Linked DNA regions of Homo sapiens: all the other regions are linked to region 1. The links come from fine-mapping of genetic effects on gene expression. A gene starts in region 1. Each other region holds a variant in brackets. All regions are shown on one strand. Distances are from middle to middle.

What was found. PIP is the estimated chance that this variant, and not a neighbour inherited with it, causes the effect.
Region 2: its variant is the best candidate, but not a certain one, in a credible set for the expression of NFXL1 in whole blood (INTERVAL, PIP 0.71).
Region 3: its variant is the best candidate, but not a certain one, in a credible set for the expression of NFXL1 in whole blood (Lepik 2017, PIP 0.63).
Region 4: its variant is the best candidate, but not a certain one, in a credible set for the expression of NFXL1 in whole blood (INTERVAL, PIP 0.89).

Annotation. Positions count from the first base shown.
Region 1 is chr4:47,910,238-47,918,929 of GRCh38, reverse strand. NFXL1 (nuclear transcription factor, X-box binding like 1) reads left to right here and starts at 4,347. Exons shown (of 23, transcript NM_001278624.2): 1 at 4,347-4,565; 2 at 4,725-4,961; 3 at 7,936-8,106. The coding sequence starts at 4,727. It overlaps LOC101927157 (a long non-coding RNA gene), which reads right to left and starts at 4,703. Exons shown (of 3, transcript NR_125879.1): 1 at 4,226-4,703. RefSeq lists enhancers at 4,367-4,596, 4,107-4,792, 4,793-5,479.
Region 2 is chr4:48,020,770-48,024,769 of GRCh38, reverse strand. The region is part of intron 1 of NIPAL1 (NIPA like domain containing 1); the gene reads right to left. Among named protein-coding and RNA genes, the nearest start is that of NIPAL1, 6.0 kb to the right of the region's middle. The variant C/A (reference allele first, on the strand shown) is at 1,781.
Region 3 is chr4:47,848,175-47,856,866 of GRCh38, reverse strand. NFXL1 (nuclear transcription factor, X-box binding like 1) reads left to right here. Exons shown (of 23, transcript NM_001278624.2): 20 at 1,704-1,808; 21 at 4,925-5,011; 22 at 5,719-5,772; 23 at 8,531-8,692. All of the region lies in intron 1 of LOC101927179 (a long non-coding RNA gene), which reads right to left. Among named protein-coding and RNA genes, the nearest start is that of CORIN, 14 kb to the right of the region's middle. The variant G/C (reference allele first, on the strand shown) is at 4,123.
Region 4 is chr4:48,189,222-48,197,913 of GRCh38, reverse strand. All of the region lies in intron 2 of TEC (tec protein tyrosine kinase), which reads left to right. Among named protein-coding and RNA genes, the nearest start is that of TXK, 59 kb to the right of the region's middle. RefSeq lists enhancers at 1-151, 1,711-1,760, 1,781-1,830. The variant G/A (reference allele first, on the strand shown) is at 4,379.

The DNA of each region.
Region 1 (8,692 bases):
CCCAAAATTTCCTTAAGCTGATAAGCAACTTCAGGATACAAAGTCAATGTCCAAAAATCAAAAGCATTCCTATACACCAAGAACAGACAAACAGAGAGCCAAATCATGAGTGAATTCTCATTCACAATTACTACAAAGAGAATAAAATACCTAGGAATACAACTTACAAGGGATGTGAAGGACCTCTTCAAGGACAACTACAAACCACTGCTCAGCGAAATAAAAGAGGACGCAAACAAATGGAAGAACCTTCTATGCTCATGGATAGGAAGACTCAATATCGTGAAAATGGCCATACAGCCTAAGGTAATTTATAGATTCAATGCTATCCCCATCAAGCTACCACTGACTTTCCTCACAGAATTGGAAAAAACTACTTTAAAGTTCATATGGAACCAAAAAAGAGCCCACATAGCCAAGACAATCCTAAGCAAAAAGAACAAAGCTGGAGGCATCAGGCTACCAGACTTCAAACTATACTACAAGGCTACAGTAATCAAAACAGCATGGCATTGGTACCAAAACAGAGAGATAGACCAATAGAACAGAACAGAGGCCTCAGAAACAACACCACACATCTACAACCATCTGATCTTTGACAAACCTGACAAAAACAAGAAATGGGGAAAGGATTCCCTATTTAATAAATGGTGCTGGGAAAACTGGCTAGCCATATATAGAAAATTGAAACTGGATTCCTTCCTTACACCTTACACAAAGATTAACTCAAGATGGATTAAAGACTTAAATGTAAGACCTAAAACCATAAAAACCCTAAAAGAATACCTAGACAATGCAATTCAGGACACAGGCACGGGCAAAGACTTCATAACTAAAACACCAAAAGCAATGGCAACAAAGGCCAAAATAGACACATGGGATCTAATTAAACTAAAGAGCTTCTGCACAGCAAAATAAACTATCATCAGAGTGAACAGGCAACCTACAGAATGGGTGAAAATTTTTGCAATCTATCCATCTGACAAAGGGCTAATATCCAGAATCTACAAAGAACTTAAACAAAAGTACAAGAAAAAACAACCCCATCAAAAAGTGGGCAAAATATATGGATAGACGCTTCTCAAAAGAAGACATTTATGCAGCCAGCAGACATATGAAAAAATGCTCATCATCACTGGTTATCAGAGAAATGCAAATCAAAACCACAATGAGATACCATCTCACGCCAGTTAGAATGGCAATCATTAAAAAGTCAGGAAACAACAGATGCTGGAGAAGATGTGGAGAAATAGGAATGCTTTCACACTGTTCTTGGGAGTGTAAATGATTTCAACCATTGTGGAAGACAGTGTGGCGATTCCTCAAGGATCTAGAACTAGAAATACCATTTGACCCAGCAATCCCATTACTGGGTATATACCCAAAGGATTATAAATCATGCTACTATAAAGATACATGCACAGGCATGTTTACTGAGGCACTATTCACAATAGCAAAGACTTAGAACCAACCCAAATGTCCATCAATAATAGACTGGATAAAGAAAATGTGCCATATATACACCATGGAATACTATGCAGCCATAAAAAAGGATGAGTTCATGTCCTTTGCAGGGACATGGATGAAGCTGGAAACCATCATTCTCAGCAAAATATCACAAGGACAGAAGACCAAACACCACATGTTCTCACTCATAAGTGGGAGTTGAACACTGAGAACACATGGACACATGGAGGGGAACATCGCACACAAGGGCCTGTTGCAGGGTGGGGGGCTGGTGGAGGGATAGCTTTAGGAGAAATACCTAATGTAAATGACAAGTTGATGTGTGCAGCCAACCAACATTGCACATGTATACCTATGTAAGAAACTTGCACATTGTGCACACGTACCCTAGAACTTAAAGTATAATAAAAAAAAATTGTTTTGACGATAACAATACCTACTTCATGGTTATTGTGAAGATTAGATGAGTAAAAGAAAAAAGGACCTAGAAGAATGCTGGCACATAGAAAGCACTCAAGGATTGCTGGTCACTGTTATTAGCTATTGAATATTTGAGGGAACAGAAAAAATTTCTCAATAAAGTTTGACATGGAAATTTAGATAATATGCTAGTCCAGCTCTCTGGCATATAACATAATTCTAAGAAGGATCTCTCTTTTTAGTAGCCACTCAATACTTCTTGGACATTACTCAGTGATAATTACTATATTCTCTCTCAGAGTATAACAGCTCCTTTCCTGTATGTGAAAACCCCACTGAAGAAAAGTCTCACTTTAGGGTTTTCAAACTTTGAAAGCTGGTTGCAGCTTTAAACTTACAGTTCTTATACAAGTGCAGCATTAAGAGAGTTGCTGTGCACCTGTTAGTTTCTAGCCAATGAAGTTATATCATTCTCAGAGATGTTATTTCTTTTCTTCTTTTCATTTTTCTGAGACGGAGTTTTGCTCTTTTGCCCAGGCTGGAGTGAAGTGGCGCGATCTTGGCTCATTACAACCTCCGCCCCCTGGGTTCAAACAATTCTCCTGCCTCAGCCTCCCTAGTAGCTGTGATTATAGGCACCCACCACCATGCCCAGCTAATTTTTGTATGTTTAATAGAGACAGGGTTTCGCCATGTTGGCCAGGCTTGCCTCAAACTCCTGACCTAAGGTGATCCACCCGCCTTGGCATCCCAAAGTACTAGGATTACAGGCGTGAGCCACCATGCCTGGCCATGGGATGTCATTTTTGAGTTTGGTTAATGTACAGGCAATTCTGCAATATCTATGTTTAAGACATTAAAAGCATGGTTTCTAATACTAGACTACTTAGGATTGAATCTTGGCTTCACTACTTCCTAGCTGTATGATCAAGGGCAAATTGCTTAATCTCTCTGTGCCTCAGTGTTCTCAGTTGTAAAACGGGGATAATAAACACGGTTACTGTGAGTACCAAATTAGTTAATACATAACGTAAAACACTTTAAACAGTGCCTGACATCTAATAAATGCTATCTAAATATTATAATAGAAATTTATGGTTAAAATAGAAGAATTAACTAAGTTGAAGGACTGTACAATAAGCCATCAATATGTTTCTCAATCCCAGACAGACCCCAGAATGAATTTTTGCAATCTACCTGTCAGTATATATGCACATGTATCTTATTGGAAAACTCAGCAAAATCATAAGATTTAGGTCCTGGCCCTCAACTATTTTCCTTAACAAAATCTACTTTAGGGAGATGCTGTGAAGGTAAAAATTAGCATGTCCCAGGGAAAGCTCATTGCACACTACAAAGGACTATGACAATAACAGGCTTTAGATTTATTTTCTACATTGGCTCTAGCATTTTAGAAGGGTACTTTTACTACTCAAGCCACTTTCCTGCAACTCTCCCCCGAATTTCCCTCCTTCACAGTGGCCAACCTCAAAGCGTTTTCAATGTAAGTGCCTTTCCTGTTAGTGAGACTTCCCTATGAAAATAAATAGTTTAAAGGTTGTTGGAGCCTAAAACTCACTAAGCCTGGAGAGAGATGTGACTGTCATCTGAGTTACACGTGGTTACAACTTCTGTTTCTCAGATTATAGATTAACTTGCTTTCTTATTTTTCTTGTTCTATACAATGGCTAGAGAGAATTAAACGAAGTTAAGGACAAAAACTTCCTGCCTTCTTAATGATCCTTATAGATTAACTTCTGCTTTGTTGCCCCGGTTTGCTTAGACCAGATGACAGAAAATCCTTTATGAAAAATGTTAAATGTACACTTCCCAAAAAGAAACACTGTCTATAATCAAATTGTTGTAACTATTCTCTAACCTTGTATGAGAAAATGCTGTAATCCTGCTAAAAAACCTCTCAGTTTCTGCCTATATAAGTGAAATCTTAAATCTCTACTTCGGAACGCTGACTCCTTCCTTGGAGTCGGTGTTTCTAGGTAGGCTATCCTCAAACTTCGCGCTTTTGATTATTTTACATTGACACCTCCTGTCATCCGCAAGCTCAAAGGCAAGGCTAATAAAAGATGGCAGAGAGCCAATTAGGGACAGAGCCATGTAATCCTCATACCCAGGTGAGTTTAGGGCAGTCTTGCAGAAGCAGAAGCAAATTGTGGGGTCACGAAACCCTCCGGACCCGCCCGCCTCCACCACCACGCGCCCCTATGACCTTCGACCCCTCCCTAGCCCCAGAGCACGCCGGGAGTTGTAGTTCCCAAAGGCCTGTTCGGGCCAGCGCAGGCGCTTGGGGTTTCCCTCCCACCCAACCCCCGCACTTTACCGGATAAGGAAGCGGCCCGTGCTGCCACGCAGTCGCCGGAACGCGGGCGGGGGCTTCTGGGAGTTGTAGTCTGTTGGGGGCGTGCGCAGTCGGTAAGGAGACGTAGCTTTCCGTGGGGTGTACCACTGCAGTTGGTTCCCGGCGGGAGACGCAGGGTCAGTCTGTGACTCTTCCCCTACCACGCTCCCGCAGAGGCTGAGGAGGCGGTTTCGACTTCTCCTCCGGCTTTCTGTCTTCGGCACTGTGTGCTTCTTGCTCCGCGGTTTATTTCTGTACCTAGTCCTCCCTCCCCTCTTCGGTCCATCTCCAAAGCCCGGGCTTGGCGGGGACTCGCCCTCCGGTAAAGGCAGGGCCGCGACCTCCTAAAACCCGGTCGCCGCCCTGCAGGAACCTTCCTCACTCGGCCCCTCACACCGGGTTTCCGCACTGACCCTCCTTCGCCTCGGTCCTCGCTGCGCTCACCTCCTTCCACTCTTTTTTTTTTTTTTCTCCTTTGCAGGGATGGAAGCTTCCTGGCGCCAGGTGGCCGGTGGCCGAGGCCGATCCCGGGGACGGGCCACTGCCGCCCCCTCAGGAAATGGAGTCCATCTCCGCGGCGCCGGAGGAGGGCGAGAGAAGGGGTCGGTGGGCGCAGTTCCTTCTGGCACCAGTCCCGGAGGAGTCGCGACCACGGCGGCTGCAGGGAGCAGGCACAGCCCCGCAGGATCCCAAGCCCTGCAGACTACCGCAGCCAGCGGTGAGAATGGCTCCCGCCCGCGTGCTCACCTGGATGCCTCCTAAGGCAGTTACTAGTCAGGACCGCCTCCGCCCTCGCCTTCTTTCTTTCACTGCTTTTCCCCTCGTTCGGGAGTTTGTTATCGGGCCCACTTCTCCAGCCTTTCGGGTGGCTGCTCTTTTCGGCACTCTAGGTAGATTTCCATCGCACCTCTTTCATCTTAATTTTAGGTGGTATTACCTTTGTTACTTCCCTCCACTCTTGCCTACTTGAATCTCCAGACCATCAGTTGTAAATTGTGGCCCGGTGTTCTGATTTGGTCTATAATGTTGTTTGGTTAACACAGAGTTTTAAATGTGGATTGATTGTCAGCGGTTGTTTGTCGTTTTTAAAAATCTGGTTAACAACCTTGTGGCTTTAGTTATCTTTGTGCATGGCAACAGTCAGCTCGGCTGAGTCACAGAAATCCCATTTAGATTGGACTTGGGCATTCCATCTCACATTCTCTCTCATTTCTGGAGCCAGGTGTCATTTGTCATCTTTACCTTTGCCTTTGTTTCTTGACTTGTCTTATTCCTTGTAAGCACTTGAGCTTTTGATACCTTCCTTGACTGTAGTTCCTATTTACAAATTCCATGTCCTTCTGTGGACATATCTGGTGTTGCCTCCGATATATCAATACTTTTCATCCAAGACCATGTTTTCGTGGAGCCAGGGAGGACTTACACACAATTGTGCATGGGGCCGAGGGAATAATCCCTGAAATCATTTTATTTTTGTGTTTGGAATGCATTTCAGGATACATTTTTTTGGGGGGTGTGGAGCAGAATTGAGTATCTTGAATGATTTTTCTCCTAGGCTAATTTGAAAGGTAGGTGGTATTCTCTTAGCATGCAGTTAATGGCCGTGATGATAAGGTATACAATATGGAGACGTGTGAACAGGTTTGGTAAACTTTTTTTTTTTTTTTTTTTTTTTGAGACAGAGTCTCGCTGGTCGCCCAGGCTGGAGTGCAGTGGCGCAATCTCGGCTCACTGCAAGCTCTGCCTCCTGGGTTCAGGCCGTTCTCCGGCCTCAGCCTCCCGAGTAGCTGGGACTACAGGCGCCTGCCACCACGCCTGGCTAATGTTTTGTTTTTTGTTCTTTGGTTTTTTTTTTTTAGTAGAGACGGGGTTTCACCGTGTTAGCCAGGATGGTCTCCATCTCGTGGGTAGAAGGAAAACAAGCATTCTGTCCGGGCGCGGTGGCTCAAGCCTGTAATCCCAGCACTTTGGGAGGCCGAGGCGGGCAGATCATGAGGTCAGGAGATGGAGACCATCCTGGCTAACAGGGTGAAACCCCGTCTCTACTAAAAATACAAAAAATTAGCCGGGCGGGGTGGCAGGCGCCTGTAGTCCCAGCTACTCGGGAGGCTGAGGAAGGAGAATGGCGTGAGCCCGGGAGGCGGAGCTTGCAGTAGCCGAGATTGCCCCACTGCACTCCAGCCTGGGCGACAGAGCAAGACTCCGTCTCAAAAAAAAAAAAAAAAGAAAGAAAAGAAAAAGAAAACAAGCATTCTCTACCTGGACAGTTGAGATTTGGCTGTAAGAAATAATACGTGAGAAGGTTGTCTTGTCAGCTTCTCTTTACTTTGAGATGATGTTAGGTGAATACATTTATCAGGTTATGAATGTTCTCATTATCTCTGTCCAGTTCAGCCTGTTTTCTTATGTATCTTTTAAGTGCTAATTTCCCGTATATTAATGACATTTATCATCTCTTTTGTGACAAGTTTTGAGTTATATATCTCATAGCCAGTTCTTTTTTCCCAGTACTCAAAGCTTGCTAGGTAAGCATGATACACATTTTCGTCGAGGTTTACTTGAAATACTCAATTTGTTTTGTTAATAACCCCTAACCAAACTGGCTGCAATAAGAAAAGGAAAATGTTTCATGAGGGAACATAATCAAGTACGAATATACCACCCAAGATAAGAGAGCTTATCTTGGTAGTGGCTTATCAGTTTTAAGTATAATGTTAATTTTAAAATAGTCAATCAGTAAATTTAAAATCCTCTCAAGATGGGAATTCATGAACTCAGATCAGTTCTGCAGGTTTGTGGCTCCTTTCTTAAACTATGTTTGCTGTCCGTAAGAGCTTATTAACACTTAGTGCTTGAAGAAAATCCCTGTGGTCCTTGCTCTCAAGAAGTTTGAAGTTTCTTTGGGAGTATGTGCAGTGAAGTAATCTGGTTTTGTTTTGCATGATTAATCAAGTAACAAAATGAGAAGTACAGGTAGTGCTGAATAGTGGAAGAACGAATCCAAAATTAACATTCTTTTTGGAATGAAGTTGGAAGAAACATGTTTTCCATGTTAATACTTTGTGTGGATTAATGTAAAATATGTTTTTTTGTGTGACCACAAGAAGTCCATAATAAAGGCAAAAAGTTCTTGACCTAAGAAGCCGATTGTAAATATAGTGGGTGCATAGTGAGTACTGTTGGTACAAACTCTTTGGTAGGGCTGGACTGGACTGGGCTGGGCCGTCGTGTCCTATCCTACCTGTTGTTCAGAAGACGGTAGTTTGAAATACCTACCTTCCCTGATTCTTTATGTGCTCACTGTGGACATGTTCCCTCACTTCTTAAAAATTACTGTGCACAATGTACTTTAAAACATCTTAATTTTTGTTAGTCCTTATTTTGAAGTTGATCACCAGTATTTTGATAGTTTTATTGTATTTTCATATTTTTTTTCTTGATTTGTTAATCACCGTTATCATAAAAATTTGCTGCATTTTAGCAGGATACTTAGAAAAGTGAAAGTTTTTGTTGTGGTATTCTCTTTAGTTGTGTGTCAAGGAATTTGAAAATACTTTTCTCGTGGATTACAGGAAGGTAGAATGCTCCAAAGGTGACTTTCAAATGTGTGTTGTAAAATGATATATTAGCACATTATGCTTTTCTTTTTGAGAGATTGTTTTGCAGAAATGAAACTTTTTTCTTTTAAACAGAGCTAATGTCTCAGAAAAAATTTGAAGAAATCAAGAAAGCTAACCAAGCTGCAGCCAGAAAACTTGTTGAAGAACAGTTTAGCTCTTCATCTGAAGAAGGAGATGAAGATTTTGAAGGAAAACAGGGAAAAATACTTGCAAATACGTTTATAACATACACTACTCAGACAGGTACTGATCTTTTAAATTTTGACTTTTGACGTCAATGAAACTGTATTCCTGACATTTTTTTGGTAATGCCTTTGTTCTATATGGAATAGATTTTATATCTTAAGATGAGCACTGTATGTTATAGAGTTGAATTTTTGTACACTTTGGTATTTGAGTTATATATTGTGTAACACTAATTTTTCTATAAAGCAAATAGAATGGCAGTGGCTCTTTTATAGCCTTAGGAGGCCTTTGTGTGTATTTAATTGGCATTTCAGTAGAATGCTTGGATGGGGCTGCTAAAGCTCCTGAGCGGTGGACTGGGGCAAGTTTTTTCTGGTTGTGATGATTTGATTGAACTAGAGTACTTTGTGTACTCCTTTCAATCTATTCATTTTTTTTCATCATGTTAAATGCGTCTTGAAGTCTTTTTAATTCTTTATTTCCTTATTTTATATCTTATTTACAACATCTGATTTTCATGTATTTATTTTTAGAGTTGGGGTCTTGTTCTGTTGCCCAGGCTGGAGCGCAGTGGTACGTAGTGGTGCGTAGTTCACTGCAGTCTTCAACTCCTGGGCTTAAGTGATCCTCCTGCCTCAGCTTC
Region 2 (4,000 bases), 110 kb before region 1:
ATCAGCAACTTGATGGAGCAGCGAATAGCTGTTCAGACCGGCTTGTGCTCAACAGTTCAACACAGCCCATCACATCCACTTCACTCTGCATTATCAGCCTGGCTACTGGAAAGCAGGGCTTGTGGGGCCTGAATGTAGGGAGAAAGCATAGCAACCTCAGTCTAGAAATCACATTGCAAGAAATCTGTTCGCTGGGCATGGTAACTCACACCTGTAATCCCAGCATTTTGGGAGGCCAAGGTGGGATGATTGCTTGATCCCAGGAGTTTGAGACCAGCCTGGGCAACATAGTGAAACCCCATCTACATAAAAAAAATTGAAAAATTAACCGGGCGTGGTGGTGCACGTCTGTGGTCCAAGCTACTCGGGAGGCTGAGGAGGGAGGATCGCTTGAGCCCAGGAGGATGAAGCTGCAGCGAGCTGCGATCACACCACTGCACTCCAGCCTAGGTAACAGCAAGACCCTGTCTCGAAAAAGAAAAAAAGAAAAAAGAAATTGGCTGAGCATTATGGCTGTAATCCCAGCACTTTGGGTGGCCAAGGCGGGTGGATCACTTGAGATCAGGAGTTCGAGACCAGCCTGGCCAACATGGTGAAACCCCATCTCTACTAAAAATACAAAAATTAGCGGGGCATGGGCATGGTGGTGCATGCCTATAGTCCCAGCTACTCTGGAGGTGGAGGCAGGAGAATCACTTGAACCCAGGAGGCGGCTGCAGTGAGCTGAGATCGCGCCACTGCACTCCAGCCTGGGTGACAGAACGAGACTATCTCCAAAAAAAAAAAAAAAAAAAGAAGAAATCTGTCTAACTCATTTGGTGGGGTATGAGTCATTTGGTGGGTATGAAGAGTTATATATTTCAAAAAACGTTTTAAAAGTGGGTTTAGTTTTCTAGTTTAGTTGATTTTTCAGGTCTGTTAATCCACTTTGTCCTAAAGAAAATGGAATCTAATAAAAAGAATTTAAATATCATTAGGCTTTTTAAAAAATGAGATTCAAAGAAGCATGTAAATCCCCTGAACCAAGTCCACTATTATAAATGTCTTGGAATTTTGAGGCTAAACACTAAAATACAAAATGAAAACGTTTTACACTATGTAAGAAACTTTTTATAATCTGTTCTCCACTTGAAAAGACACCAACAAGGTGACATTGTGACAAGATGTTCTGTCTTCCCATCTTTCCTTTAAAAATGGCAAATTCTCCCATTATGAATTACCCTAAACAAAAGAGGGTAAAGGAAAATTAATCAGAAACAATTTTGTAATTCAATTTTTAGAAAAGTTTTACATTTCAAAAATCTTAAGAAGGCATATAAGCAACAAGAGGCAGTTTGATCAAATGATGTCTTAGCAACAAGACTTCCATAAGTGGACCTATGTACCCCTGGCAAAGCTTCATGAAGCCACCTGAATTTTACCACATGCAAAGTTAAGAAACACCCATGAAGTTCAGGTCTGGAAAATAATAAAATAATGGAATTCAAGGTTTTCATGACTATTATTTCATTTATCTCTGTAATTTGAAAATGATCCAACTTTGTTTCAGAAATCCAGAATAGTTGGACATGGTGGCTCACCCTTGTAATCCCAGCACTTAGGGAGGCAGAGGCTAGAGGTTTGCTTGAGCCCCGGAGTTCAAGACCAGCCTGGGCAATATAGCGAGATCTCCACAAAAACAAAAACAAAAACAAAACAAAACAAAGAAATAGAAATCCAGAATAAACTCAAAGTCAAAACTAAATATCCTAACTGCTGCAAATTTTCATTTCTTTTTTTT[C/A]TGAGACAGGGTCTCACTCTGTCACCCAGGTTGTAGTGCAGTGGTGTCATCACGGCTCACTGCAACCTTGACCTCCTGGGTTTAAATGATCCTCCCATCTCAGCCTCCCAAGTAGCTGGAACCACAGGCATGCACCACCATGCCCAACTAATTTTTTTAGTTTTTTTTTGTAGAGATGGGCTCTCACTACGTTGGCCAGGCTGATGCTGCAAATTTTCAAGCAAGCTAGCCCTTAGCAATCTTGTTCCACACGATGTTTATCTCATCTAAGCCCCAAGAAGGGAAAGTGATTAAGTATATTTTTGTAAGAATTTTGATTACATTCATTCCTAAGAAAACATCGGACCTGACTTACCAGTGAATTCCATGGCTGCATTCATGTCATTTACTATGCAGTTAACATAACCACTCCAAAACTTTGTCTCTGAAATCAGTGTGGGTAGATCTCATTCCAGTGAAACAATATTCCTTCTAAGCTGTTGATACAGCAAAATGTTTCTGACATTGTAGGGGGTGTGGGAGCAGAGGGTCATAAGGGAGATCAAATGATCACTGTTGCATTTTGCAAGTTCTCATTGCAACTGGCAGGCATGAATGCTCCAAGTTTTATGGCAGGAAAAATAATAAAAATCTTGTCTGGTTACTGACCTTAGGACTTAAATTGTTTTATGCTTTGGGAACATGTTAGGGAGAGAGCCTACAGCAGATATGACTGAAAGAGGAAAGAAAGGATGGGTTAGTGGATGTGGAGTGGCCTACGGGAGAAGGGAAGAGATGGGTAATGGATGGTGTGTGGGCAGGGAATTTGGAGTGTTTTAAAGGAATCAAAGACATCTCAAGTCACAATTGGCTTATCAAGATTTAAGTAAGCACAGTAATTTTCCAGGGAGTTTAATCCAGACTTTATTCCACAGAAAGAGAACATCTACTCCATTCATTATGCTTCATTTTTAACAGACACTATCAATAGTCCTCTAAAGTGACTGTACCAAAGTACACTCTTGCTAGCCACGAACATGTACTTCTTCTTTGATGTTATTTTTCTAAATAGAGAATAATGAATATTTAGGAAATATATATTATAAATATATATATATATACACACCAATGTATCAACCAGCCAGTTTAAGAAATAAAGCATCACCCCTCAGAGTTAGTAACTATCCTGATTTTCTCTTTAACATTCTTTTGCTTATAAAAAAGATTTTCTCCATATATCTTGAAAATGCTTTTGCCTCTTTTTGCACCTATGAAAGTGTAATGATAAAGAATTTGTTCTTAGGTGACTTGTTTTTGAGATTCATCAAAACATGATGCATGAGGCTGCAGGATTTGTTTTTTCCCCACTGTTCTAGAGAATTCCACTGTATAACTATCACACAACTAATTTTTCTGTTTTATAGTTGATTGATATTTAAGTAATTTACAGGTCCCACAAACAGTACTTCTAATGTTCTTATATTATGTTGAACTATATGAAATTGATGATAACTGAACAATTTGAACCCTATGACAAGTAGTTTCATATGTTTCAACCTAATATTTATCTTCTATGTACAGGTGTAATAGTTTACATACACACACCTTTAACATTTAAAAATGAAGATCTACTATCTATAATCATGGGCAAGTTGAGTAATGGCTCTTGGTTTCAGTTTCCGCATCTGTAAAATGAGGGACTTTGACTCAATGATTCTAAAGTTTGATCATAACCTATGTTTGTTCTCAGAATTACTTACAATACTGGTGCCTCATAAATGTTGCTGATGGACCAGTTCTAAACTCATAGGCACTGATAGAGGAGAGATATTTTAAAGAAACTGATGCCAATATATTAAGTGACACTGGCCAAAGTTATGTAACTGCTAAAACCAGGGCCAAGTAACCCAATTCCCAGCCAGCATTCTATTTCAGAAAAATAAAAACATAAAGTACAAGAAAAAGCCAGTTGAAATTTATTATTCATGTTTATATAAGGATGAAATGCTTTAAATAATTTGTCAAATATTTGCCTATAGAGAATAATAATATAAATTTAAATAATAATTTAAATTATCCAGTTTATTACATGGAATAGAAATCTGGTTTTAAGAAAGTCAATAATTGTATAAAACTACCTTTTTAATCACCGCAAGATATTTCCAGTTGGGGGTCTCACCATCTATTCTACTGTGATAGTTTGGATTATTATTCATTCAGTATTCAGCCCCTTACCTTTCC
Region 3 (8,692 bases), 62 kb after region 1:
AGTGTTTGAAAATGAATAAATATTGAGCTTATTAAGTAGTATTCAGTGTCCAGTATTAGATAAAGGGAAAAACAAAACTGAAATCATTCAGAAATACCTGGACTTACTCTATTAATAGCAGTTCTCTGCCCTATAGTAGGATTAGTGGAAGTGCACAGTGTGAGTGATCTGAATTTAGTTTTAGTATGAATGCCTCAGCTAAAAGTTAAAGAACAAAAAACCTAATCACACACTAGAAAGAGACTAAAGACAATGGAAAAGGATTCTAAATTTCTTTGAGTGGAGTCAGTAGTTTGAAAAATCAATCTGGTGAATCATAGAGATCAGTAATTAGAGAATTTAAATGTTTACTGAGGGTTCTACTATTTGGGAGGGATCTTTGTTAGGGATTATGACATGAGAGACACAAAGAAATGCAGATGTTCCTCAGTTTATGGTGGGCATATGTCCTGATTAAATCCATTGTAAAACTGAAAAATTGTTTTAAGTTACACCACCGTAAGTTGATGACTGTCTGACCATTGCCCTCAAGGAACTTATAATAATAACAACTTTTATTATAATAACTAAATATACTGAACTCATTTAATCCTCACAACAGCTTTATAAAGTACTAATACTCTTTTACATGTGAAATTTTACATGTGAAACACAGAGAAGTCAGGTGACTTGTCTAAGATCCTGTAGTTAGTAAACAGGTAATCTGGGACTCAGTTCCAGGTAGTCTGACTTTGACATTTAACCCCTAACAAATAGTGTATTTTATTTGTTAGGGTTGGAGAGACAGAAATATATGAAGTGCCTAAAAAAAATTGTTTTTTTGCAAAATTTCAAGACACCACAAGCAATGTTACAACAGTTTAGAAACAGATTTCTTAACTACTATTATGTATTTATGTATAGGCAGATTTATATCAGGCCATTATGGTGATTTAAGTCATGTCTTAAAGTGTGGATAAGATTTGAATAGACAGAGAGACCATGAACATTTCATCTTAATGCTTGACTAGGATAGGAAGACAGTAAACAATTAAAGACACGGAGCATAAACATCATGGCAATTACTGAGTTGTTTTGGCTACCTAAATAATATTTTTTTAATATTAGTAGAAAGGGTAAATGTTGTAGAATAAAAGGCTAAACAGTTATAACACCGTATAAGGACAGGGCATTTTCTTTTTTGTTTTTTTTCCCACAGTGCAGTACAGGGAAGGTAGGTGTGTCATTGTATTCCATGTGTTCACCCATGAATCCAAGTCAGCTGGCAGCTCTGCTCTCTTTGGCATATGGTTTCCATTACCGCTCCAGCTTTCATCATATCCAGGACATGGGGAAGAGAAGAACATGGAAGTATACTCTTGAAATGATCTGAAGCATGAATCACCTGTACTTGCTTACATTCCATTGACCAGAACTCAGTTATATGGCTATAACTAGCTACAAGGGTGGCTGTAAGATGTACTGTTGGAATGGAGCTGGGGAGAATAATTAAATATAATTAAATTATATATATATAATTAAATTATATAAGTGTAATTAAAATAATTTATATCTAAAAGAAAAATAGTTTACAAATTATCCCATTAGCTAGGATTGATTGACCCTTTGTGTGATGGACTCTCTTAAAATTGTTGGGGTATGGGGGAAACTAGAGTATGATCAAGATGTAAGTATGTAATTGCTTTATTTTGATTTTATTTTAGCTTCCTTGTGGTCATAGATGCAAAGAGATGTGTCATCCTGGTGAATGTCCCTTTAACTGCAACCAGAAGGTAAAACTTAGATGTCCTTGTAAAAGAATAAAAAAGGTAAATATTTTAAGTTATTGAAAATACTTTTCTATATAAGTTGTTTTTGTGTGGTTTTCTTGTTCTTGTTTTTTGATCTATGTGTTTTGGTAGTTGTTTGGCTTTTTTTTTTTTTTTTGCCTTTTAATTTTGAGGTTTTACTTCATAGAACTTTTTTATTATTGAAATGAGCCTACTAGTTCTTTAAACATTTATTTTAAACATAAGCTTTGGCGATTTAATTTTCTGCAATTTAACAGTAAAAGGAAAATTATTTTTTATGTTGGAACCAAATTCAATGCCCTGTTTTGGTCAATGTGCTTTAGATTTGAGGTCTTTGAACAAGGAACACAATGTAACGGGTAGAATGTTTCATTGCTTAAGAAATGGCTTGAGATTAACTTTGTTGCTGTTATTTATGAAATTCTTTTTACCATCAGTATTGTCCTTTGAAAATATTGCCTTAAAAAGACCTCATATGAATAGCCTTATAAAGTAAAATAACATGTAAACTTGGAAAGAACTAATTTTAAGATAAAATGATGGTAACAGAGGAGTAAATGGGCAAAAACTAATGATTACAAAGCCTGATGGAAACAAACTATATACTGCTCAACAAAACTTATGAAGGAAAATATACTGTCCTAATAGTCTTTTTCTCAATTCTCTGTTTCCTTGATCTTCCCTGTTGGCAGTGCTTACTCCTTTGAAACCAACTTTTTTGACCTCTGATTTACCCTATCTCAGTTATAGTCGTAACTCCTTTTTTTTCCTTCATATTCCTATTGTCATTCCCTAAAGCTTGTCTTTTTTGTCTCTTGAAATTCGCTTTTATTCATCCATGTGATGGATATGTATTGAGGATCTTTTATAGGTCCTTTGCCTTTCATTTATGTTCATAGTTTCTGATATGTTTTCCTAGGATAGGGAACTTCTGAATTTAAATTTATACACTTGGCCTTTTAGGGAGTGGAATCTTTAAGTTTTAGATATTTAAATTGACCCCCTGTACCTGAAAATAAATACTTGGTCAAGCCATTTTTAATGTGAGATGTCTCTTAAGTTTTCTCTGAAATCTCATGTCTTGTCCAAGTGCCATATGCCACCCACCCGTTAGTACTTTGGAACAACTCTTTTCTGGGCTTTGGCCACAACTTCGTGACCCATTTCCTTGTCTCTAGTCACACCACTTCCCTGTTCTAAATTCTTCAATGGCTCTTCATCACTTATGGAAAAAGTGCATTGTATAAAAAATGTGTATGTGTAGGTATATGCAGACTCGGCATACCAGGGAGGCTATGATAAGACATTTGCCTGCTTGTTCAGTCTCGTCATCTAGCAATCATCTCTGTGAATCTGTTACTTAAGTGCCCTAATACATATATTGTACCCTCGCTTAGCTTAGGCTGTGGCAATGTATATATATTTTTTTCCTGTGTAAAATACAATATGTTTTTCCTTTAGCTCTCTGCTTACTAGAATCCTGCTAATACTTATTGGAAGCACTTCCTTGTTTGAGAAGGTTTTCCTTCCCCAGGTTCCCTTGGGAAGGCTTAGCTGTTCCTTCCTCTTGACTTTCTTTGTACTGGGTTCATAATGTAGAGCTTTGTGATTCTAGGTATCTGTAACCTTGTTTCCTCATCTGTAAAATAGAGTTTATAGAGATTTATTGAAAGGAATAAAAGAGGTAGTGCTTACATAGCATTTAAAACAATGCTATGTTTAATAAATAGTAGCTGCCATTACTATAAAAGAGGTAGTGCTTACATAGCATTTAAAACAATGCTATGTGTAATAAATAGTAGCTGCAATTACTATTGTTATTTATTTAGCACTTAACAGATGATTATACTGTTTATTTCTTACTGTGTTCCATTTCCCTGTCATGGTGTTTAGCATGTTATAGGCACTCTGTAAGTATCCTCTGAATGAGAAAAGATAAAATCCTCTTCTAAGCTGATGGACTTAATGTCTATAAACACACGATACTTATTTTTGTCTCCAGTGTTTGTTCATGTTAATTTTCTTATGTCTGGACTGTCTTTGGAGGACAAGACTATGTTTATCACTAAATCAAGCCAAAAATGAAGAACTAAGGAATAAAAAAAAAAAAACCCTCCAAGTAATAAAATTCCATGCCATAAAATGCTTTTACTAAATGCACTTTACTCAGGATTTGGTAATCTCATGTCTAAGCTGTGGTAGATTTGAACAAAAAACTAGAGTCTGAGGGTCTGGTGAGACAGGAGAAACTGATACAAATTAAATATACTGAGAGTAAAAGTGACATTGGCAGCAATAAATGAATGAATAAAAGATAGATGTACTACAAAAG[G/C]CAGTCTAAAACTAATATAAAGACCACTCTTCAACTCAGTAGGTCATCGTTTTATTCTGTCGTAGTACAGAAATTGGTCATAGTTTTGATGTCAAGACATCAAAAACAGTAGATCAGTGTTCTTTCATTAAGGAGGTAGTGAAGTGCCAACATAAGCTTTAGAACAATTTTCATCTAAACTTAAAAAAAGTTTAACAGTCGAGAGAAAAATTTGTAGCTCCCCAGAAAACTCTCTAGAGCTGCACTATCTGAGATGGTAGCCACTAGTCACATGTGGATATTTAAATGCAAATTGTAATGAATTAGCATAAAACAGTATTAAAAATTTGGTTCCTCATTTTCACTACCCACATTTCAAGTGCTCAGTAGCCATATGTGGCTAGTGCTACTCTGTGGACTAATGCAGATTTACAACATTCCATCCCACGCACATACCAGGAAGCTCTGTTGGACAGCACATTTGTAGAACATTGTATTCCCTGGACACTTTGCAAGAATAACAAACAATAAAGAAAAGTAAAGAATAAAAACAACATGGGAGCTAAGTCCAATAGTGGCACATAGTAATTATTAAGTTGATTTTTAAAAATTTTATGGTATTCTCTTTTTTAAGTTAAGAGAAAATAAGCAAGTAATCACTATTTGAAGCAGATATTTAATGCTTGCAACTATATCATCATTAAATATTAAGACATCAAATAATACTTATAACCTTAAGCTATCAGATGAACTTTGCTTTTTTATGGCAGACAGGTCTTTGAGGGAAAAATCATTTAAAATTTGAAAATCGGGTTGTTTGTAGGAATTGCAGTGCAACAAAGTACGTGAAAATCAGGTTTCAATAGAATGTGACACAACGTGCAAGGAAATGAAGCGGAAAGCATCTGAGGTAATGTCTCGTTAAATATCATTTTAAAGACTAGTGGCCTTTCCCTTCTTATTTTGTGCATTTATGTACTTATTAAAAACAACTTGAAATCTCATTTTTTTGCTTTTATAATAAAAGCCTAGTTTTATAGGCTTATTTTGAATGGCAGATTGGGATTTTCATTGCCTAGTGTATATGAAGGCTTTTCATCTTCTATGCCCGTTATAAGATTTTGAGATTCTTTGCTGCTTGGGTTATCTCTAGTGTTACTCTTCCCCTCCATCAACCCAATCAGTGACCTCTTGATTTTGTTTGAAAGTAAGGATTCCCTTCCATGATAGCACATTTAAGATAAATTTAACTCTAGAGAAACAGCAGTATTTAATAATTAATTCTAGATTCTTAATACAGCAACTCAAGAGGAAAAAAGGCAGTTTTAAAATTTGCTGTTACAGTGTTTTAACTCTTTGAATTACGATGTAATACCGATTTTACTTGTTAAGCTGAGATGCTCATATAAGGTATAACACTCCATCCATGACCACCTTCAATTTATTAGATAGTGCCTTGGTAAAACCTTGTCTCAGTATAGCATTTACATTTCTTTAAATGATTTCAAGCTCCTAAAAGTTGATATGGGTTAATAGAACCTGGATGGGTAGATGTTAAAATTCCATATAAAATGTGATGACTAAATTGTAAATTGACTTTTGTATGTGTATAAACAGATAAAAGAAGCAGAAGCCAAAGCTGCTCTTGAAGAAGAAAAACGAAGACAACAGGTAACCAAACAAAATACCCAGATTTATGTCTCTTAGCATCATTGCTAGATTTTGTGCAAACACGGGGTATATTCCAAGGTCAAACTAAGGTCTAGTCTCTATTGTGAACTGAAAATAACAGTTCTTGTAAAACAAAAATGAGCCATCTACTAACTTGACTTTAAGTATACTGAAACTCTGAAAAGGTATGAGATCTCATATATTCCCAAATTTTTTTTTTGTATTTCCAATTTACTTTCTTGCCAATATCATCCATACTTCAGCCAGAAGAATTTTAATTCCTCCTTTGGCTGGGGAGTGAGAGTGAGCGAATCATCACCATTGTAAGGCATCTTCTGGAGACCATGACTTTACTTAACTAAAAGTATTTGAGTTCTATTTTACTGAGTTGCAGACCACCTATAACAAATAAGTGCAGTTTACTAATCAGTACATTTGTTTTAATAATATATTCCCATATTTCCCTATTAGATCTTTAAATGCGGGATTATAACCTGTTCTTTGTTGTTACCTAGAGAACAAGTACATTCCTGATACTCCCTGTTTAAGTATTTACTTTATTGATCATACACTTGAAAGAGTGGCTTGACTTTCTAATAGTGATGTATAACTTTTTATTATTATTTGTCAGTTTGTATCTTGAAATGCTTTATACTTATCAGATTGTATTGTGTGCTAAGCTACTGCCTTTATGAATGATGAGATTGAAACTTGCGTGATTTGCATGAATAAGGAAATTCAAACTTTGATGAGTTGTAGGAACAATTAGAACAATTAGGAACATTAGAAACAATTCATGTAGTAAATAATGGTTGGCCAAGGTGACCTTTGAGATTTTATGGTTCTGTAAAGTTGATTTGCCTGATATCCCCAAAATAAGTTATCAGAGCTAAATAGTAAAACATAAGTTGGCTGGAATCCTAGGAGATTAAGTTATTAAGAATAGTTTAGTATGTTTTCTCCTTATTCCCTTTGCTATCTTTTTATAAATCATCATGGATGAAAATCTTAGATACATTCCCTGTTTACTGACTCTTTAAACAGAATATAATCAGTCCTTAGTATATGTAGGTTCTGCATCTGTGAATTCAACCAACCACAGATCGAAAATTTGTTTCAAAACAAGTAAAAAAAAAAAAAAATAAATAATACGCATTTTAAAATACAGTGTAACACCTATTTACATAGCATTTACATTGTTATTAGGTGTTATAGGAAATCTAGAGTGATTTAAAGTATACAAGAAGATGTTTGTGTGTTATTTGCAAATCCTCCACTATTTATGTAGAGACTTGATCATCCTCAGGTTTTTATATCCAAGGGGATCCTAGAACCAATTTCCTACAGATACTGAGGGATCACTGTATACAGCACATAATATATACTTGGTGACTGTGAGTCACCATTTAACTGTCAGTTATTTTACTGTGTCTGTAGTCCTCAAGTTTGCCTGCTTTTAAGATATTTTGACGTTTTTTATATGTCAGAAACTAACCACTTGGGAGTAGTCTGACATTTTGGCTCATTGAAGAATGCCACTTTGTATTAAACTAAGTTTATTATTAGATCTTTTTCAAGTGTGGTTTATGACCACAGTAATGGATATGTGAACTAAAGTTTACATTTCCTCCTATTAAATAACCATTTACAAAGTTTTAGGTGGATATTATTAAATACATATATATTTTAACTATTGTCTTAATTACCTATGCACTATAGCATATTATATTACATTATTATGTGTAAAAGTTTAATAAGTACTTAGCAGTAGGATAAAAATCCCCATTTGATATTGAATGCAATTCAGTTATCGTCTTTTAGTACTAGTTTAAAATTTTTATGTCTAAAATAGTCATTTTGATTTTAAAGCATGAAGAATTTTTTCCTTTGAAGAATTTTTACTATTTTTAAAAAATGTATTTGGTAGAGAAGAATCGAGTTCTGGCAGCTTTTTTCTCTTTACTCACTTGAATTTCTTTCTTAAAAGCCACTAATGTTTATTGCATGCATTGTAAACAACTAGAATTATAGGTATCTTCATTCTCACTAGGCATCACAGCACTTGCTAGAAGCTTTATAGAATGCTGGTTCTATAATAATTGGGTTGAAGTATAATGGTGTCAATGTATAAGACCAGTGTCTATATTTTAGAGCATCCTGATTTAATAAGACGTTTTATTTTATTTATTTATTTATTTATTTTTTTGAGATGGAGTCTCTCTCTGTTGCCCAGGCTGGAGTACAGTGGCGCCATCTCGGCTCACTGCAAGCTCTGCCTCCCTGGTTCACGCCATTCTCCTGCCTTAGCCTCCCGAGTAGCTGGGACTACAGGCACCCGCCACCATGCCCGGCTAATTTTTTGTATTTTTAGTATAGATGGGGTTTCACCATGTTAGCCAGGATGGTCTTGATTTCCTCACCTTGTGACCCGCCTGCCTCAGCCTCCCAAAGTGCTGGGATTACAGGCGTGAGCCACCGTGCCCGGCCTAATCAGACATTTTAATATTTAGTATCATAGTCAGCCCTACAGTTTGAAATATTCTCTTCTGTTATCTCCCAGTCTCCTTTCTGCTTACCTAAACCCTGAATTTGTTGAATACAATCAGTAGTGGAGAGTAGTGTTTTAAAAAATCAAATCAATATATTGACTATATATCATTACTATTAAAACATTACCCAAATTGATTTTTATGTAAATGGAAACTTTCAAATCAATGTATGCATTGAATTTAATTAAAATGATGCTGTTTTTATTTAGGCTGAACTAGAAGCTTTTGAAAACAGACTGAAGGGTCGTCGGAAGAAGAACAGGAAAAGAGATGAAGTGGCAGTTGAGCTATCACTATGGCAAAAACATAAATATTATCTCATTTCAGTGTGTGGAGTTGTGGTTGTAGTGTTTGCCTGGTACATCACCCAT
Region 4 (8,692 bases), 280 kb before region 1:
TTAAGGGAAGCTTCGATAAAGTGGGGAACCCTGTCTGCTAGATAGGAGAGATGCCTTTAAATTCTTATCTCTGGCTGCTGGCCTGAGCCATTTGGGTGTGGTGTGGAACTAGAACTATCAAGGGTGACTGAGCCCTGCTTTGGGTATGAAAAAGTTGAATCTATTCAAAATGGATGCTGAGGCAACATGAAAGTATAAGAATTCACTTCAGGACTAGGACAGTTAATTGTGGAAAAGTAGCAAGATAAGGACTAGTATAACAAGGTTTGTACAGCTTTCCCTCAGCCTCAGCTCCCCATCTCTGGTGATAAGAATGAATGTCTTTCGTCCTCCTGGTATAAGGAGGGCACCTTTTTCATGGGAGTTAATCTCATGCTTTCAAGAAGAACAAGGAAGGTCACAGTGCCCTTCTTGCATGTGCTGTTTTTTTTAAGTGCCTTTAACTCAATCCATATGCCGAAGTAGCATATTTTTGGGTGCTTACCATGTGCCAAACATGGTCTTATATGCTTTTTAAGTATTAACTTTAATCCTGTGAACTGTTTGAGGCAGATACAGTTACTATTCCCATTTTACAGATGATGAAACTAAAGAACAGAGAGGTTGAGTACTTTGCCCAAGGTTGCAGAGTGAGCATGTGGCAGAGCTGGGACCCCAGCCCATGCAGCCTGATTCCCAGAGCTCTGAACCATTGTACTGCACTGCCTCTGGATAGCTTTGTGATATTTTTTGGGCTACCAAATTGTGTGTTTATAGAAGGATCAAACATATATTAATCTTTATATTCACCGGAATATGACTTAGCCGTCAAGACAGCCTGACAAACCGGCAAAATATGTCTTTGTAACATTACTCTTGTGCTTTGAAGAGGAATTTTTGACCAAAGATGCTCCCTGCTATCGTGTGTTAAATGCTGTGAGTTACCAGAGATCAATTGTTCCTAACGTAAAAAGGAAGTGCTAATCTAGTCACTGGCTGGCTCAGTATTGGTTTCATACTGTAAGATAGAACTAAAATAACAGCCTCGAAGGGTAAAAATAGTGGAGTCACATGAAGCATCAACCGTCATTTTAAAAACAGAATTGTAAGACCCATGAGGAAAGGTTAATTTCTTTTTCTGTTTGAAAAGAGTGGATGTTGGTAGACACTGGTCGTTTCTATTACGGCCTCCTGTAATTTTAGAAAACCGATATTTGTCATGACCTGAGGAAACATCTCATTCATGGCTTTTATAAGACATAGTCAAATTCAGCATCAACTCTCAGAAGATCTTTCTTGGAGTCTAGAAGGTAGGTGTGAGGATCGTTTCTTAATCAAAACTAGTGGCTCTCGCTTTTAGGTTTCCTAAGGGCTAGTATGCTTTTCAAAAATAATATTAGTAGCTAAATTGATCAAGCACTTAAACTGTTTGTCAGCGTTCTTCCAAAAGCTTTACATGAATTGACTCTTCGAATTCTTACTGCAATCATATGAAGTTCTGGTGCTATTATTCATCCCATTTAATAGCTAATGAAGTGTAGGCACAGAGAGGTTAAGTAACTTGTTCAAGGAGATACAGTGAGTAAGTAGCAGAGCTGAGATTCAAACTCAGACAGTTGGGCTTCAGACTTTTTGCTTTTAAGCAGTAAGCTCTATTATAGAGGCCTGCTGGTTCTTAGCCCAGGGAGATCTAAGACGTGTAAACCAGAATGCCTGCCCACACTGAGTAGGGATCTTCCCCACTCAGTCTACTAACTTGCATGCCAGTCTCCTCTGGAAACACCATCACAGACACAATCAGAAGGAAAGCTTTACCAGCTCTCTAGGCAGTCCTTCTTCCAGTCAAGTTGATACCTAAAGTTAACCATCACACCTTCCAAGACTGGTTGCTGCATAGGTGCTATAATGTGGTATCTCTGTACCACCAGAAGGGAGGTGAGGCGGGGGTAAGGAAGAGAAAAGCAGACAGATAAAGCTTCTGTTGCAGGTGCTGGTGGGCACTCAGTGAGTGGCGTGGCTATTGGACAGTGGGGATTCTGTATTTTGCACTGTGGGGGCATCTCTCAGAATGGCCAGATATTCTGCAACAGGGATGAATGAGAGTTAGTTTCACTAGAGCAATTGAGAGTTAGTTGCATTAGCAAGAGCAAACTAAGAGGGAACAAATAGTTTAATTATGGCTCCTAGCTGTGATAGCCAGCAAAGAGTACAACATTGCAGCCTAGATTTCTGTATCTTACTCATTTGCCCTTGATCAATTTGTTTAACTCAGTGCCCCATTTACCCAACAGTAAATTGCAGATGCTAAATGACTCATTACTTTGGCAGAGTCACTGGTTCTGTAATTAATTATGGAGCACTTTAAGATTGATGAATGCAAGGAGCTGTGCACACACGACCTGTACGAGCAGTTGTATAAACATCGGGATTGTTGTTGTTTCTAAGGCTTGCTTCCTGTTCTGAGCCCAGTGTGCACTTTACCACAAAGGACAGCAAAAGCTTTATTAGTAGCAATTAAGAAATGTGCCATCTCTGCTTTTACTGGTTTATGATGGGCTCTTTTTCTATTCTCAAAAAAAAAGTTTGTAAGTAGATTCAGTTACAACTTTGATCAGGCTTTAAAAAATATTTGAGAAGTGTTTTTTAACCTTTTATCATAGAATATTTACAACTTACTGAACAGTAGACAGAATAGTACAGTGAACCCCGTGTACCCATTACCCAACCAAGTAACCCTAGTCACACTTCCTCCCACCTCATTATCTATAACAAATCCCTTCTACTCCCATTGTCTTGCAGAAACCACATCATTTCTTCTACAGATGGTTCAGTATTCATCTGCAGAAGTCAGGGAGCCCCCAGCTTAAGCAGAATCTTAGTGCCATCACCACACTCTTAAATATCAACAGAACTTCCTTAATATCATCAAGCACTCAGTCAGTGGAAGAAATTGTTTTAAAAATAATTTTATCTACAGAATGTTCACAGTTGATGGGTTGTATTACAAAAGTTTGCTGTAAGTTGGTTATTTGCAACACCAGTTGAATGAATATTCCTGTAGAAACTGTAGTAAAAGCAGTGATTGGCCCGCATTAAACCCACAAAAACCCATGGAATACATAATGAAGCAATTCTGTGTATTTCTCTTTGAGTATTTTACTGAGGGGAGAGTTGATGGGCAATTCACCGTCTGCTACTAGAGACCTGGCTCCAAAATACATTTTCTCTTTCTTGTGGGTGTTATTATGGTGATTCCTTCTCCCTGTGCCCACTTCCTCACTCCCCCCAACTCTCATCATCTACTCATCAAACTTCCCATTAGAGAAGCGAGAGGAAGAAACTTTACCTGGTATGGCTGACTGTATTCATTGAAAACAAGGAGGGAATGTTTCTCTTTTAGGGGGTAGCAAAGGGTATAGGAAAGCTGCCATTATATGCAGTTTAGTATTTTAAAGACGTCTAGAAAACAAACTGCAATGTGATCTCTTTAACATTGAAGAGAACTAGAGAGATATATAGGGCTAAGTAGCAGCTGATTTAAAGACCAGGTTAATGTTCTGCTTTCGCAGTTCCCTAGCAAAGCTCAGTTCAGTTTTAAGTAATTTATATTTCCAGTCCATAATTGTGTGCATGCCTCTGTGCCCTCCACTAACATCAGATAAGCAGGGAGTGGGGCTCTTCTTTGTAGAAGAACTGGCTAGATATAGGCAGGGTAGAGGCAAAGTTTCCAAGAGGCTGTGAGCCTTTCGATGCACCTTTCCAGAAATCCAGCCCCAGGGGAAGGCTTTAGGAGAATTGCCACAGGGTTTCCCACCCTCAGGGCTGTCATTGCTCTGGGTTATCACTTCATCAATCCATTGGTCATGGTTGGGATACCAGGAGGTGGGGTGGGAATGGTGTTCCCCCTTGGGCTGCAGTGGTAGGTTTTGTTCCACAGATTTGGCCATTGCGTATTTGGATTACTTGCTGCCCCTGCCACCCACCATCTATCCCAGAAATTGCATTTTCTGTCTTGCCCTATTTGCCATCTGTAACTCTCACCCACCAGAAACTTACAAAGCTTATCTCTCCCAAGTTCCTCTTGATAAGAAATCATGTTTATGTGATTCTAGTTATTTCCACTTTCATAAAGATATAAAGTATCATTAAAAAAAAAACCCTAACACATGAAGTGCTTACTGGACAGCCTCAGAACACACACGCAGTCCTACTAGAGAAACAAAGTGCTACTAGTCAGTATTAACCATAGAAACCTAAGAACTGAAACCTAGGCTAAAGGGCCTTCCTTCTTTTTTGTTGCTAAGAAAAATAAAACAAAACAAAAACAAACAAAAAAACAGGCCAAAAGATGCTCACTAACATATCCAATGATAACCATCTCTCCCTTGACAGTAGTTAC[G/A]TTTATCTCTGAAGATTGTAATGGGACAGTTACTCTGTCACTTGGGTATTACTATGTGCAGCAGTACACTTTGATGGAATAGAGAGGAGAGGAAGCAGAGTCTGGGATTATTTCCAGGAAGCAGGTCCTGGAGATTCCTGGCTTGCCTGTGCCCACCTGGTGTGGTATAGGTCTGAGAGAACTGCAGCAGAAGAAAGAAAAAAGATAGAAGATAAAAAATATGAGCAAAAACTCTTCTCGAAAACGGCGTAGTTAAGAAAAAGTGGTGGTGCTGGTTATGCTCTTCAGGAGGCTGAGGTGGGAGGATCGCTTGATCCCAGGAGTTCAGTCTGGGCAATGTAGCAAGAACCCTATCTCTTAAAAAAAAAAAAAATCAGAAAAAAAGGAAAAGAAAAAGTGGTGGCTACAACTGGATATTGTGAAATTAGACCTGAGAAAAGTCTAACTGCTCAGCAATTCCACTTAGTTGAGTCCTCTCCTATTTATTTATTCATTCATTCATTGACTTATTCAACAAAGTTATTGGGCACCTGCTAGGTGCCAGGTTGCCAGGTGCCAGGCTCTGCTGCAGGTGCTGGAGAGGGAGTAGCTGTGCCTTTGCTGAGCTTCCAGTTGGTGACCTTTATTAGACCTGCCTTGAAGAAGGGGTGATAAAGAGAAGGCTAGGACCAAGCAGCAGCCTTGGTAGGAGGTGTTGAATTTATTTTATTTATTACTCATTTTCATTTAAGACTGAGTGAATCAAATGGATGGGTGAGTTCTTTCTAAGTTGGAATAAATACTAGGGCAGAGCCTTCATTTAAATGAGAGCTGATCAATTACCTACTTCTGGCCCATTATAAACCAGAGTTATTTTGCTTAATCTTTCTACTCATTTTTTTTTCTTTTACCATTGTTGTTATTGCAGTTTTAAGCTTATGATTTAGAACATTAAATTATTACCAAAGAATTTTATAGTTTCCAAGTATCCCCAGACTTCAGGGTTTCCGAGAGCAGGGGCCATATTTTTTTCAGCATTATACAGGTATGCTCCAATGACTGCACGTATTTAAATTGCATTATTTGATGAGTTTTCACATTAGGTATACATCCATGAAACCGTCACTACAACAACTGAAACACTGAGTATGCCCATAACCCCTAAAAGTTTTCTCATGCCACTTTATCTTCATACCTCCCTCTTCATGCCCACCATCCCTAGGTAATCGCTGATCTAATTTTTGACATGATAGATTAGTTTGCATGTTCTAGAATTCTAGAATAAACAAACTTATATAGCAGGTACTCTTTTTTAGACTAGCTTCTATCACCCAGCATATTATTTTGACATATATTAATTTGGTTATAACAATATTGCATTTCTATTACTGTGAAGTACTCCATTGTATGGCTATACCACAATTTGTTTCCCCTGTTGATGGATGTTTGGGTTGTTTCCAGTTTTGGGCTATTATAAATAAAGCCACTATGAAAGTTTTTGTGTTAGTCTTTGTGTGGACATATGCTTCCATGCCTTTTGTGCTTAGTGCATTATCTAGCATGTAGTATATACTGAGCAAATATTGTCCTGAGTGGTTGTTAGACTTCACCTGCATATCTTTTATGGTCTTAGTCTGTCACCCAGGCTGGAGTGCAGTAGTGCCATCATAGCTCACTGCAGCCTTGAACTGAGTTCAAGCAATCCTCCTGCCTCAACCTCCCGAGTAGCTGGGACTGCAGGTGCACACCACCACACCTGGGTAATTTTTAAATTTTTTTTGTAGAAACAGAGTCTTGCTATGTTGCCCAAGGTGGTCAACATAGCAAGTGTTATGTTGCTGGGATTACAGGCATGAGCCACTGTGCCCTGCATTGCCTACATTTCCATGGTAATTGATAAATAAGACCAAATTACTTTTAAAAATAGTTATTTAAAATATTATTCTGTTTTAAGAGAAAGAATGGTTCTGCTATTATCCTATTTCCCTAGTTTGTTCTGTGATATTTTATGCATTATAGTCAAACTTAACTGTCTACTCCTATATTTATTGAGTTCCTGGAATATTTACTGAATTCATCCTTAAGGAGAAAGTGAAAAACTATTGGTATGTTACCTAATGAAACAATGTAAATGCCAGTGAAATATTTAAAAGATCTGTATTAAATATTTTTTTATTGAACTGTATAAGAAAATTAGAGAGTATATAATATTAAAAGTTAAGGCTGTTTATATGGGAAAAAAGTTTAAAGGCTGAAAAATTGTATAAATCTTATATTTAAAGGCAAAAACAAACCAAATAACTGACAGTAAGTGATTGTGAGGGTCCAGATAAATTATGCTATGTGCCTGTGAGCATCTCACAATTAATCCTGAAAATAATCTAGGAGATAGGTTATGTTAATCTAATAATTTTAAGATCCCCATTTACAGATAAGGAAATAGAGACTAGAAGAGGTTATTTAATTTGCATGGGGCCACAGAGCTGGCATTTAAGCACAGCTTGCTGGTCACTGAAGCCTGGGTGCTCAATCATTATGTCATATTGACTCTGCTGTGTTAAAACATTGAGACAATACTGAAAATATTGTGGCATGTTCAATAAATTTTTTAAAAAGTCCCCTAGCAGCATAGTCAATTGCTGTGTATATTATTCACATACATGTCTCTGAAAGTCAGTCAACTTTACAAGTTCTTCATCAGTTTTAAACTTTCCTAATAACTTCTGATTTTATATTTAGGGTAACATTTTTGTAGTTTTCCCATCATTTACATTTGCCAGCCTGTTTCTAGTCACTTCTTATTAGTCTCAGGAGACAGCAATATCCAGTCTTTTTTCCTTTAACAATCAAATCACCATTGTCTCTTGCACTTGAGGCTCTTTGGCACTCTGGATCCAGTTGTGATCCACAGATAATGCTCTATGATTATCTTTCTATTTCTTGCCTCAAATTTTAAATAACTTTGGGAACTTTGATTCGTCTTGCTAGGGCGTCAAAATGCTGTCCATGACTTATTTCCTACCTCGATTATAAATGCTTTGTAGGTAGGAAATCTATCCCATATTTCTTTGGTTCTTGCTAAAGAGGTTTCTGACATCACATTGGTCTGAAATCCTGGAGTCAGAGAAATTTGCCTCTCAGTAAAATTCCAAGTGAACCTGGGAAGATCATTTTAGCAGACACATGGAGAGTAAGAGGGTTTTGCTAATGTGTAATGATAAATTGAAATTTGTTGTAGAGAGTGCCTCTGTGGGCTTCTGTTTCTTTAGAAATTGGCTCCATGAAGGCTTAAACTTTAGGTGTGGCAGTTAGTAGAGTTAATTTAGGTTTTTAAATGGGAAAATTCATAGTTATAATCTGATAAATACTCACCTGGCATTTCAGACAGTATTGAACAAGTCTCCAGTCAGCATACATACTCACTAGAATTGCAGGAAAAGTACTTAAGACAAATGAAGTATTTACATGTTATTGCTTTCAAATCTAAATATTAATGTTTGTGGTGGTAGTTAGCACCCTACTTCCCATGATGCTTAGCTCCGAGTGCTAAACAGATGGTAGATATTTCATATACTAGATATGGCCAGGGACTGTTGTCCCTCACAGATCTGCAAAGTGGGAGTCCTTTCTGTTGCTGTCACCTAGTGTCAGTTTCCCACAGGTGTTTTTGCTCTTGCTATTTTTGGAGAGGTAACATGGTATAGTGGTCATTGGAAGGCTTAAACAAGTTGATATGCGTAAACCATAGGACAGCACCAGGCACACAGTGCTATTATAAATCTTACCTATTATTCTTTATTATTTGAATATGGGTTAAATCAGATACTATGATTTAGTATATTTCCATTCACCACATGGAATCTGATCATTTTGCATCTTTGCTGCCAGATTCAGATCCCAAATGCCAACACTGAGTTTCACGTAAATTCTTATTTCCTAGTGAGACATTTCCCCATGCACCATTCTAGGCTGAAAATGTGTCCAGGTGGGAGATCTATCTCCAGAAGCCAAATGTTGCCATAAAAATCCATTGTCTATTTCTGCATTTTCTGTATCTTTTCAGTAAAATGTATTGAAACCTCGGGGGTGGGAATAAGTAGGCATTTTGGATTTGTCTGGAAATGCTTACGTCTCAGGAGAGGTGGCTGAGAGTTAGTGTGTGTAACCTTTATGGGGTTTTACCTGAACATATCCCTGTAGATTGAATCTTGTTATGTGTAAGTCAGTGTTCTCAGGGTGCTCTTCACACATGTGTTGGGAGCGTGTTAGGCAGGCCTGGTGGTCAAGGAATACAGGTACAAAATAACAAATGTCAAGGAATGTTAGAATTCAAAA